2 separate regions of the Homo sapiens genome follow, and region 1 is linked to region 2. The links come from fine-mapping of genetic effects on gene expression. A gene starts in region 2. The other region holds a variant in brackets. All regions are shown on one strand. Distances are from middle to middle.

What was found. PIP is the estimated chance that this variant, and not a neighbour inherited with it, causes the effect.
Region 1: its variant is fine-mapped to the expression of PCYT1B in whole blood (TOPMed, PIP 0.99).

The regions. Positions count from the first base shown.
Region 1 is chrX:24,670,428-24,675,808 of GRCh38, reverse strand. It overlaps a transcript of PCYT1B not described here. Among named protein-coding and RNA genes, the nearest start is that of POLA1, 21 kb to the left of the region's middle. The variant G/A (reference allele first, on the strand shown) is at 2,791.
Region 2 is chrX:24,644,976-24,650,356 of GRCh38, reverse strand. It overlaps PCYT1B (phosphate cytidylyltransferase 1B, choline), which reads left to right and starts at 3,010. Exons shown (of 8, transcript NM_004845.5): 1 at 3,010-3,368. The coding sequence starts at 3,252. PCYT1B-AS1 (PCYT1B antisense RNA 1) reads right to left here and starts at 284. Exons shown (of 2, transcript NR_046638.1): 1 at 208-284. RefSeq lists an enhancer at 2,765-2,814.

The sequences.
Region 1 (5,381 bases), 25 kb before region 2:
GGTAAACGGCTTGATTTACTGACCCAACTAGGTCTGTGATGAGAATAGCCTATGTAGTGGTATTGGTGACTCTGTCCTCATTATCTTTGTTTTATAGTCATAATTAATCAAAACCTACCCTCTCACCTTTCTTGTGCTCATGACAAAGAATTACCTGCTCTAAGCAGGAATTAACTGAGGGAGTAGATTGGTAGTGATTCTTCTTTGGGATGTGAAACAAGAAGCTTGGAAATATAATCAAATGCACTGTTATTCTAAGGTATGACAGCAAGAAGCAATTTCAAAATATGCCTCTCTTGTAAACCATTGGGCCTTAATGACACAAGAGTGATTTTTCCATTACTGACAAGAGCAAACAAGTGCAAATAGAGGTGGGTGATTTTTCCTGACAGCTGAACCAGGCTTCAGTTAGTTTCAGAGAAACTTTCTATTTGAGTTGACCTGTTCGTGCTCCATCAAGTTGGGACATCATTTTAATGGATCCAGTGAATAAATCTGGAGGAAATAATGTGCCCAGGACTTGGGTATGGTTTTTTTGTTTTTTTTTTTCTGTTTTAATTCACTACTTGGAACCTACCTCTACAGTGTGGCTTACCTTTGATGGCCAATCCCAGTCTCTTTTGGGGAATCATCTATGCAAGATAAGAATAAGGATGAGGGCTGGGAGCGGTGGCTCATGCCTGTAATCCCAGCACTTTGGGAGGCCAAGGAGGGTGGATCATCTGAGTTTGGGAGTTTGAGACCATCCTGACCAACATGGTGAAACCCTGTCTCTACTAAAAACACAAAATTAGCCAGGTGTGGTGGCGCATGCCTGTAATCTCAGCTACTAGGGAGGCTGAGGCAGGAGAATCACTTGAACCTGGGAGGCAGAGGTTGTGGTGAGCCGAGATCGCACCATTGCACTCCAGCCTGGGCAACGAGATCGAAACTCTGCCTCAAAAAAAAAAAAAAAAAAAAAAAAAAAAAAGAATGAGGATGAGGATGAGGACAGCCAGGCTCGGTGGCTCACGCCTGTAATCCCAGCACTTTGGGAGGTGAGGCAGGTGGATAACCTGAGGTCAGTAGTTCTAGACCAGCCTGGCCAACATGGTGAAGCTCCATCTCTACTAAAAATACAAAAATTAGCTGGGCATTGTGGTGCACGCCTGTAATCCCAGCTACTCAGGAGGCTGAGGCAGGAAAATCACTTGAACTTGGGAGGTGGAGGTTGCAGTGAGCCAGATCATGACATTGCACTCCAGCCTGGGTGACAGAGTGAAACTTCATCTCCAAACAAACAAACAAACAGAATGAGGATGAGGGGAAGCCACAAGAGGGAAGAAGAAAGAAGAGCTAACTGTTTGGATCTGAAGAAAGGCTTTGCAGGGTGAGGGCTATCAGCAACTGTAGGGAGAGATCTGATACAAATATAACATCTATTTCCTTGGGGTCCTCAGATACTTTTCGATCCAACTTCCATGGAGTTTTCTCCCTGCGGCCCTCTAACCTCTCTCCATGCTGAGGATGCTCTCCTAACAGTGCTTGTGTTGTTTGGAAACAGTAAGTGTTATTAATCTGAATTCAGTCACAGAAGCAGAACCACGATGAGCTGTGGAGGAAGCGATTTATCATAGGAATTAGTCCTGGCCCCATTGTGAGAGGGATGGGGGATTGAAGGTCCAGGAGGAAATTGGAAGATGGGAGGAGCCACCCACCATCAGTCTGAGAAGCCCAGCACATCCAACTGTGCAAGTGGAAGGGGAAGCCGGTTGGGGAGACCTATGGGAAGCTGTTCCTACCTCTATGGGCCTGCAGCCAAGTGTCCAGTGGTGGCCCTGGGGCTCCTGTTGGTCAACAGGATCAGCACTCACAAAGAAGATCTGGACACAGAGTGAGGGAGAGTGAGGACAAGCGGGATCCGATTTCACGTCTACCTCTGTTTGTTACCATACCTAACCACAACAACCGTTGCAAAATAACCGCTCCTACTTCACTTCCACCTCCCATATCTTATGCAAATTCTTCTTTTGGTCAACTCTAACCCAAAGCCTTCAGGGAAGGGAATCCTGGGAAATGTGATTCCAACTTAGCAAGTCAGAACACTACACACTACCACACTAGGAAACAGTGTGGCCACCGGCAGAGCTCCCCCAGCAGTTGGCAGGGTACCCAGATGCAGAAGGTATAGGATGAATGAATGGTGGGGAGGGGTGAGGGAGTCTGAAAAGCATCCTTCAACCAATCAGAGCACGTTTTACTGTCCTGGAGCTTAAAATAGAGGAGAAAGCATTCTAAGAGTTTTCCTGCTAGGATGGGACAAAGGATATCTTTACTTGGCAAAGGTGAGTTTAGGTGGACCAGCTGCCTTCCCTCTAAACTGAGGTAACAGTCTGCAGCCAAGGTTTCCATAGCCCTTTGGTGCAGCCAGATTTAAAAAGAATGTTGTTCTTAGAAAGCCTGAAGCACATGCATATTTAAAGAGTTCTTTTAACACAGAGTTATCTGAGAGAAAATTACCTTAACACAAATTCCGAAGACTCCACATAGTTAAGATGCACAAATTCATTATCAATGGTGCTGAGAATAGCTCCTTGGAAGGGATAAAATGTTTATTAGAATCAATTAAAGTATGTTTGAGAGATTTATTTTTTCCATCTTTATTCTCCTATTTAAAGAAAGTGCTGAGTTGTATATTAACACTTCAAGGTCTCGGTCACTGTTTGTCTTGAAAAAAAGAGAGAAAATGTTTGTCATTCCAGGAGCATAATCAGTTGAGCCAGTGCACAATGACATAGTTAATTCACCAAC[G/A]GAATTTGTTGCCATAGCTTCAGCGAGGGACGGGGTAGATTAAACAATAGCCTTTTTCACGACTGCAGCTTTCACCACAACCCGCCTGTCCCCGCACAACAGGCCATCATAGCGCTAGTTCAGAGCACAGCAATTGTCAATGAACAACAGCCCAGAGGGGACAAGAGGAGGCTTGTGGTAAGTAAAGCAAGAGTGCCTAGCAACTCAAATCTCTCCTTATTCAACAACTGGGACACTCCGAGCTCCTCCGAGCTTATCTTTGAGCGCTGGGCACAGAGAGCCTGCTTGACCTTTGGTCAAGTGAGCAACAAAAATTTCATCCTGTGACTCAAAAGAACTCCAAAGGGTAGAGGCCTCTAGAGAAGATAAAAAGATCAGGAGCAGGCATGGTAGGCCATCAGGAGTGCATCATGGAAGAGGACAATCGCGCTCCCCAATTGTGGCGCAAGGTAATGTGAATACTTTCTTATTGATTTTTGCCTTATTGAATATCAAAGTCAGTTCAAAAAGTAAAGTCCTATGTATCTGCAAGTGTAATGAATCTGTGCTAATTAATAGTCACACTAAAAATGGAAACATTATCTTCTCCGTCTTAAGTTGATTTAAAAAAAGACAAAGAAAAACAAATTGTGACTAATATTTCTTTATCCCCTTGCAGAGTATGTCAGCTCCCTGGATAGACTTAGATGACAAGAACAAATTTGCTTACTAAAAAAAAGGTCAGATCAATATGCTATGGGAGCCTGAGGGTATTGCAGAAATGTTTTAACAAAATGTTCTTTATCCTATGAAATGAGAAATTCTCCTAGTAGAAACGTCACAAAATCCTGATTAGAATACCCATTCCTTTTATTCTGAGATGGAGTTACGCTCTTGCTGCCCAGGCTGGAGTGCAATGGCACGATCTCGGCTCACTGCAACCTCTGCCTCCCGGGTTCAAGCGATTCTCCTGCCTCAGCCTCCCAAGTAGCTGGGACTACAGGCGTGCACCACCATGCCCAGCTAATTTCTGTGCTTTTAATAGAGACAAGGTTTCACCATGTTGGCCAGGCTGGTCTCGAAATCCTGACCTCAAGTGAAGACAATCCATTTCTGAATTCAATGTTATGCAACTGTCACTTAAGTGAGACCACTGTATATGGTCTTTTCTCTTGGGCAGAGGGTGCCCGGAGAATGTATTTCAAGGGGAACCTTGTTAAACTGAATGAGTTCTAGATGGAGAAAGTTTAGGCAGTGGGACAAAGTGTTAAGAAGGACCCCAGATGATGTGAAGAAGAGATTGAGGGCCAGAGGCAGCTTCCCAACAACGAGGCAGAGGGAATTTCTCTGCTTAACGGTGAAGCTGGTTTCACTCCACTACCCTGAGAATGGACACAGGCCCTGGTCTTTCCTGTACCAGCATCCCTTCAAAACCTTCTCATGCCCCTTGGAATGGATATGGGTGGCTGGTTTAAGCACCATATTACTCAGAAAGTAGTCTAGGTTCATATCCAGCAGACACTTGAGCTACATGACTGATTGATCATTTCGCCCAGTTGGTCCCTTCCCCAGTCACCTCCATGTTATCTTAAATTTGGAGAAATTTGTACTGTATATTGAAGACTCATGAGTTTTACTAGCCAATTGTATTGAGTTAATGGGGGAATCAGGAGGCATTGATTGATTGATTGATTGATTCATTCATTCATTCATTCATTCATGCCTCATTTCAAAATTAGATTTGAAGTAGTATCAAAATAACTAGATGTAGGCCAGCCACAGTGGCTCACACCTGTAATCTCAGCACTTTGGGAGACCTAGGCAGGCGAATCACTTGAGGTAAGGAGTTCTAAACCAGACTGGCCAACATGGTGAAACCCCCTCGCGACTAAAAATACAAAAAAATTAGCCAGGCATGGTGGTGGGCACCTGTAATCCCAGCTACTTGGGAGGCTGAGGCAGGAGAATTGCTTGAACCCAGGAGGTGGAGGTTACAGTGAGCCAAGATCATGCCACTGCACTCCAGACTGGGTAACAGAGTGAGACTCTGTTGCCAAAAAAAACAACTAGATTCAGTTCTGGACTGGTGCAGATATGGAAAGTTGAGATGATTCTTCTATGTTCCAGTCATGTAGAATTAAATCTGTGCAAATATCACTCCGTATTCTGATACCTTTTGCAAATTGAAAATAGACAAAGGCCTCTAATTTCATGGTCTCCCAAATGTATCACTTATCATTATTATAATAGTTGACATTATAGGGTGACATGTCCCGGGCTAAGTACTTTCCATGGCTTATTTTATGTAATTGTATTCAACAAAAGGACTCAAGCTCCTGACCATTTGCCTATGCTGCTAATTTGTGCCTTGATTTCTCTATTAAATTGAATAGGCTTATTTAACCTCCTTGAGCAATTAAAATGGATTACATTATTAATGGTAACAATAATAAAGAATGATTTTATTAACATTTTTCTCATGCTTTTCGGTTCTCAGTGTACTTTTCTCACACAGGCAGGCTCAACTTCTGTAAATTAAACTTTCTGACTACCAGCCCTTTGTGTACCATAGATTGATACCCCCACCCAAGCTGACACACGACCATTTCTGG
Region 2 (5,381 bases):
AGAGTAAGATCCTGTCTGAAAAAAAAAAAAAAAAAAAAAGCTACATAATAATTCCATTACCCCAATAAACTCTCTCCTGCTATCCCTTCATAGTCATCCCCTTCATAACCCTTATGGAATATTTAGCTCTGTAGTGTGGAATTAACTGATCATTCTTAGCTAATTGTCTTGATAGCATTACAATGCCCCCAAGTTAAAATAACTCACTCAAGTATTATCAAGAAGTTTCTGAGTCAGGTTGTAGCAGCTGCCAGGACTGGTCTCCAAAGTGGGTGGATCTGTTAAGGACTCCTCTCAGAGTGGTGCCTGAAAGAGCCTATTTCTGCCATTAAGACTGCAAGACATGCTGAGATTCAATCACAGGACTGTGGGGAGAGGAGCAGGAAGAAGCCAGGACTAGGCTGGAGCAGAATTAGTGGGAATGGAATTAGTTATAGAGCTGACCCTCAGGGCAGTTAGACAGAAGTCTAAATTTCAAAGTTCAAGGACTTGGGATGAGTAAGTGTCAGGTGTGACGGACTTAGCACAAAGTAGCACTGAAAGCTAAGGATTTGATGTGGGTAATACAATGAAGATATCCTAGGCAAAGGCAGTATCTTGGTTCAATGGGACAGGGGAGGATTAGGAGGAGAAGAAGGTGAGGAAGGGAGACAGAAGATATTGGGAGTCTAAAGGAATGGCCTAGGCTCTTGGACAAGAGTTCACAAGGACTCAGCTAGACATCAGAACTCTTTAAAATGAGCAGGTGAACAGGTGAACCTCTCATTCTGGAGAGAGAATTAGGTGACCAATTAGGAACCAAGGGGTGGCTCAGTGGCCAAGAATACAGTGGGGTTTAGGTGCTTTCCAATGTGAACAGTGACTCTAAGGTAGTGGTTTGTAAACTTTAGCGTGGGTCAGAATGCCTCCCAAACCAGGAGGTTTTGATTCAGTAGGTCTGGAGTGGGAAGCCAGAATTTCTGATTCAGTAGGTCTGGGGTGGGGATCCAGAATTTCTGACAAGTGACCAGGGCTGCTGCTGCACTTCTTGGAGAAGTACACTTTGAGAACCACTGCTCTAAGGCAAAAATACATATATTGAGATTAGAATAACCATGTCATTTGCACGTCACCCAGTACACGTAGGAAAAGGGCTCCTAAATGTAACACAGGGCTTGGCTCTTCCAGGTGATGAGCTGGTAGAGTTAAACCTGCTGCTGGAAGTGTTTTGTGCTTCCAGGAGGGCAAATAGGGTAGGAAGCATCACTGGAATTCTCACAACACTGGAGTTCTGTCCTGTATAGGTCATAATACTCTTAAGTGATGTTATTCTGACTTAAAGGGCCAGCATCTAAAACTGTCAAACTGTAATTCTCTGCTACAGAATCCATTTTCTTCTTCTTTTAGGACTAGCCCTCTTTGCTTATTGAGGAGTAATAAAAATAATGTCCCCTTATATTAGCATAGCACGTTCTAATTCAAAAAGTGCAATGACATGATATCTCATTTGATCTCCTTTCTGTGATGGAGGCAAGCCCGGTATTTTTATCCCATCCTTTGGGCTACTGATTCTCAAAGTATAGTTCCCAGACCTGCAGCATTAACAACACCCAGAAACTCTCTAGAAAAGCAAATTCTGACCCCACCCCAGACTTACTGAATCAGGTCCGGGGTCTGGCAGGGGGCCAATAATTCGCATTTCTAACAAGTTCCCTGGTGATGCTGATGTTGGTGCTGCTGGTCCCAGACCACACTTGAATGAAAACCACTACTGTAGATAAAAATGAAAGATGTAGAAGCCCAGGGACTTGTCCTAAGAGGACTCCTGCCTAGATCCTTTTCTTACTACACCTGCTGCATCCCTGGTCCCTACGCGCCCGCCCCCACCACCTCGCCCTTCGCAAAAAAAAAAAAAAAAAAAAAAAAAATTCCTTCAAATCCCAGCTGCATTATTTTAGAATTTTGTGAATGTGAATACCTGTAAAATGAGGATAACAATAGGATCTACCTCTTTGGGTTCTCACAAAGATTAAACAAGAACTAGGTAAAGTACTTAGCACCGTGCTTGTGCTTAATAAATGCCAGGGATCATCATGATTTTTTATTAATATTAAAAGTGACAATTCACAATGAATACCTTGGTAAGTTCTTTGGATGTGTGTCTTCAGAATGCTCCTCTTAAAATGTGAATGTCCCTAGATAATGTAGACATTAAAGCACCTGATCGTTAACATTCCATCTCTGATTGCCATGAGCATTTGGCTGAGAGCAGGGTACTTCGGAAATGGGACCCACGACTGGTAAAGTAGGAACCAAGAGAAAATAGAGCAGTGCATGGAACAGTGTATTGAAAGGCACACAACAGCAAGACTTCTTGAGGAAACTTTGAATAGCTGGGGAAGGGGAAGAGTGGCTGACAGAGGAAGCAACTGCGAAAGGGCAGCCAGGAGTAGGAGGCAGGCTGTTAAAGACAATCTACCTCCTTCAAAGTTCCCCCTAGGGCAGCCCCAGGGGAGGGCTCCAGGGCTACACCAGGCCACGAGGGGATCTGCCAGGGTTCACGTTGCATGAAGTCCAGGGGTCGAACACTCAGGTGCCCATAGTGAATGCCCGGAGGGGCCCTCCACTGGCAATTAGCACAATGAATTTGGGCTCAAAAGTGGCTTTGTCTTCAGGGTGACTCCTATTTGGCAAATATCCTGACTACAGCACATCATGCACTAGCTCATCCCAGGGACATGGTCCTTTATTAGTGGAGGTCTGCTATGTTGTTTCTCAAGGCGTCCTAGGCCCCTCAGGAAGCGGTTTTATGTTATCTGGGTGGCGCAGCCCGGGTCCCGTGCCCAGAGAGGACGGAGACCTTTGCAACTGAATTAAACAGAAGAAACAAAAGCAGCAAGTTCGGGCCCGTGGGTACGGAGGGCTAGCCAATGGGGCCCGGCCGCTTCCCGGCGGAGTGGTACTATGATGACAGTAGCCAACCAGCGCGCTCTATGCAAATGAGATACTGTATCCCGCACCAGCCGCTTCAGTGTCGTCTGGTTGTTATAGTGATAAACTGAGGCCTTGCCTCTTGGCTTCTGGGAGAGAGAGAGAGAGAGAGGGGCGGGGGGTAACCTCTTTACTTCCCCTAGGGAAGACAGAAAGAAGGGGAGAAGAAGCGGGGGGATGGGTGGAGGGTAGAGGGGAGAAAAATACGTGACAAAGAAAACATTCTCTGCCTGGGAGGAGACTCTCTGAGGGTGTAGAGCTAGAGGGAGCATTCACTGGCCATGCCAGTAGTTACCACTGATGCTGAGTCAGAAACAGGTATCCCAAAATCCCTTTCCAATGAGCCTCCCTCAGAAACCATGGAGGAAATAGAGCACACATGCCCACAGCCTCGACTGGTAAGTAAAGACAAAGGATGGAAATGTATGCGTGGCTATGGCATAAAAGAGTTCCTTATGCGCCCGCAGCCAGCGAGGAAAACGATGCTTAGAGGATTTTCATGTAAATGAGAAGAGCGCTACCGCCTAATCCTTCTCAGCTGTTTATACTTAGCTTCTATACCGGGCGCTGCTCTCAGTTTACAAAGCGTTATTGTATTGGCTGGGTAGGAAACGGGCTGCTTGGGATATGCTGTGTTTTTGTGCTTCGGGAGGAGGGGAGGGCCTTTTTCCTTTTAGGTGTGTTCTTGTCTGAAGGTAAAAAAATCCTACAGTGCAATTTTAAAATGGTATTCTCTTTACCAAGCTCGGGAAGAGTCCCTTGTTAAGTTTTAAATTCTAGCTAAGGAATGCTTCGTTCCTCAACTGATTTTGGTGCCTAATGCCAATTTGGGGGGAAAAAAATGGAAACATGGAAGCAAAACTTCCCCATCCGTTTGAAAATGTTCAAAATAAATAAATAAATAAATACATAGGAGTCCCTCAATGATTTAGTTAGAAATAATACGCATTTAAAACGAATTGTAAAACATTTCCAGAGTGTGCTGTGAGGGTTTCTCTTCAGGTAGTGGAAACCTGGGGAGCTACATTTATTTAGAAAGGGGTTGCATGCCTTTAAGAATGAAAGTGTGGAAACGGGGTACTGAGAGCGTCCTTCCGCCTCCGTAACTGCACCGTAACTGCTCTCCCAAATTTGGTCGTCTCTCTATCCCTGGTCATGATCTTTTAGGTAGATGTGAAACTTCGTTCCCAACCACCTCAGCATGTGTCCTCAAGGAATCAAAAACACGCATGGGTGGTGGGTTTTCTGTGGTCCGAAGTCTTGTGGAACTTGGGGAGACCTCTCTTTGAGTCCCCCAATCCAAAAGACACACTAGTTAAAGCTATCCTTTCCTTTAGCGATTTCCCTCAAGTTAAAAGGTGGAATATTTTGATTGGCTGTGGAGTTTGACCCTGGGAAGAGTTTTTTAAAAAAGGATTTTGTGATGTAGCATTTTCTGTGAACCTGCAAAATTAGGGCTCGCAGATGAGAAGGCCAACCCATCATAAAACTGTTATTTCTTAATAAGAGTTAATAAGGGTTCAAAGGAGGCTTAGAACAACTTCCTAAAAAGCACAAATACAGAGGAAGTTATATTAGAGCCCTGTGGGCTTTTTTCCCCTATGCTTCTATTTTTAAAAATGTTTTCTCTTAGGGCAGTTTAATAGTAACTGTGCCCTAGCACTTTAGCCACTTACTGAATGACATACACAGTGCAGTGTCTATGTTCTCATGAGATACAAACCATCCCAATAAGTTTGTTACTAAGGGATTCCTTTGAGTCACTAAACAACTTATGGTTTAGCATAAAGGAAAATGACCACTAAAAGCATATTACAAGATTATCATATGCACATATACATATATACACATAAATAGAGAGAGAGACTCACTCTGTTTTCCAGGCTGGCCTCAAACTTGAACTCCTGGACTCAAGTGATCCTCCTGCCTCAGCCTCCCAAGTAGCTGGGATTACAGGCTTGTGCCACAGCACTGGACCAATATATATATGTGTGTATATATATATATGTATATACACACATATATACATATATACACACATATGTATATATATTTGTGCCCATGCTTACCCAAAAATATATTTTTTAAAGTAACCACAATCTTCAAATTTGCATCACATACCTTCCTGACAGAGGTAAAGGGCAGAGGAGAGAAAGGCGGCATCCAGCTCCAGTTTGTGCATCATTTCAGTCTCTTTTGCCTACTATTTTTCCTTCCATTTTTACCTCTTAGCTATTCTGCTTCTTGATTGCTTCTGCCTGAGGGAGATGGGCAGAGAAAATTAAGGGAAAGAAGAAAGTTCAAGTTACTTTCTTGTTTTTTTAAGATGGAGTCTCACTATGTCCTCCAGGCTAGAGTGCAGTGGCCTGATCTTGGCTCACCACAACCTCCACCTCCCAGGTTCAAGCGAT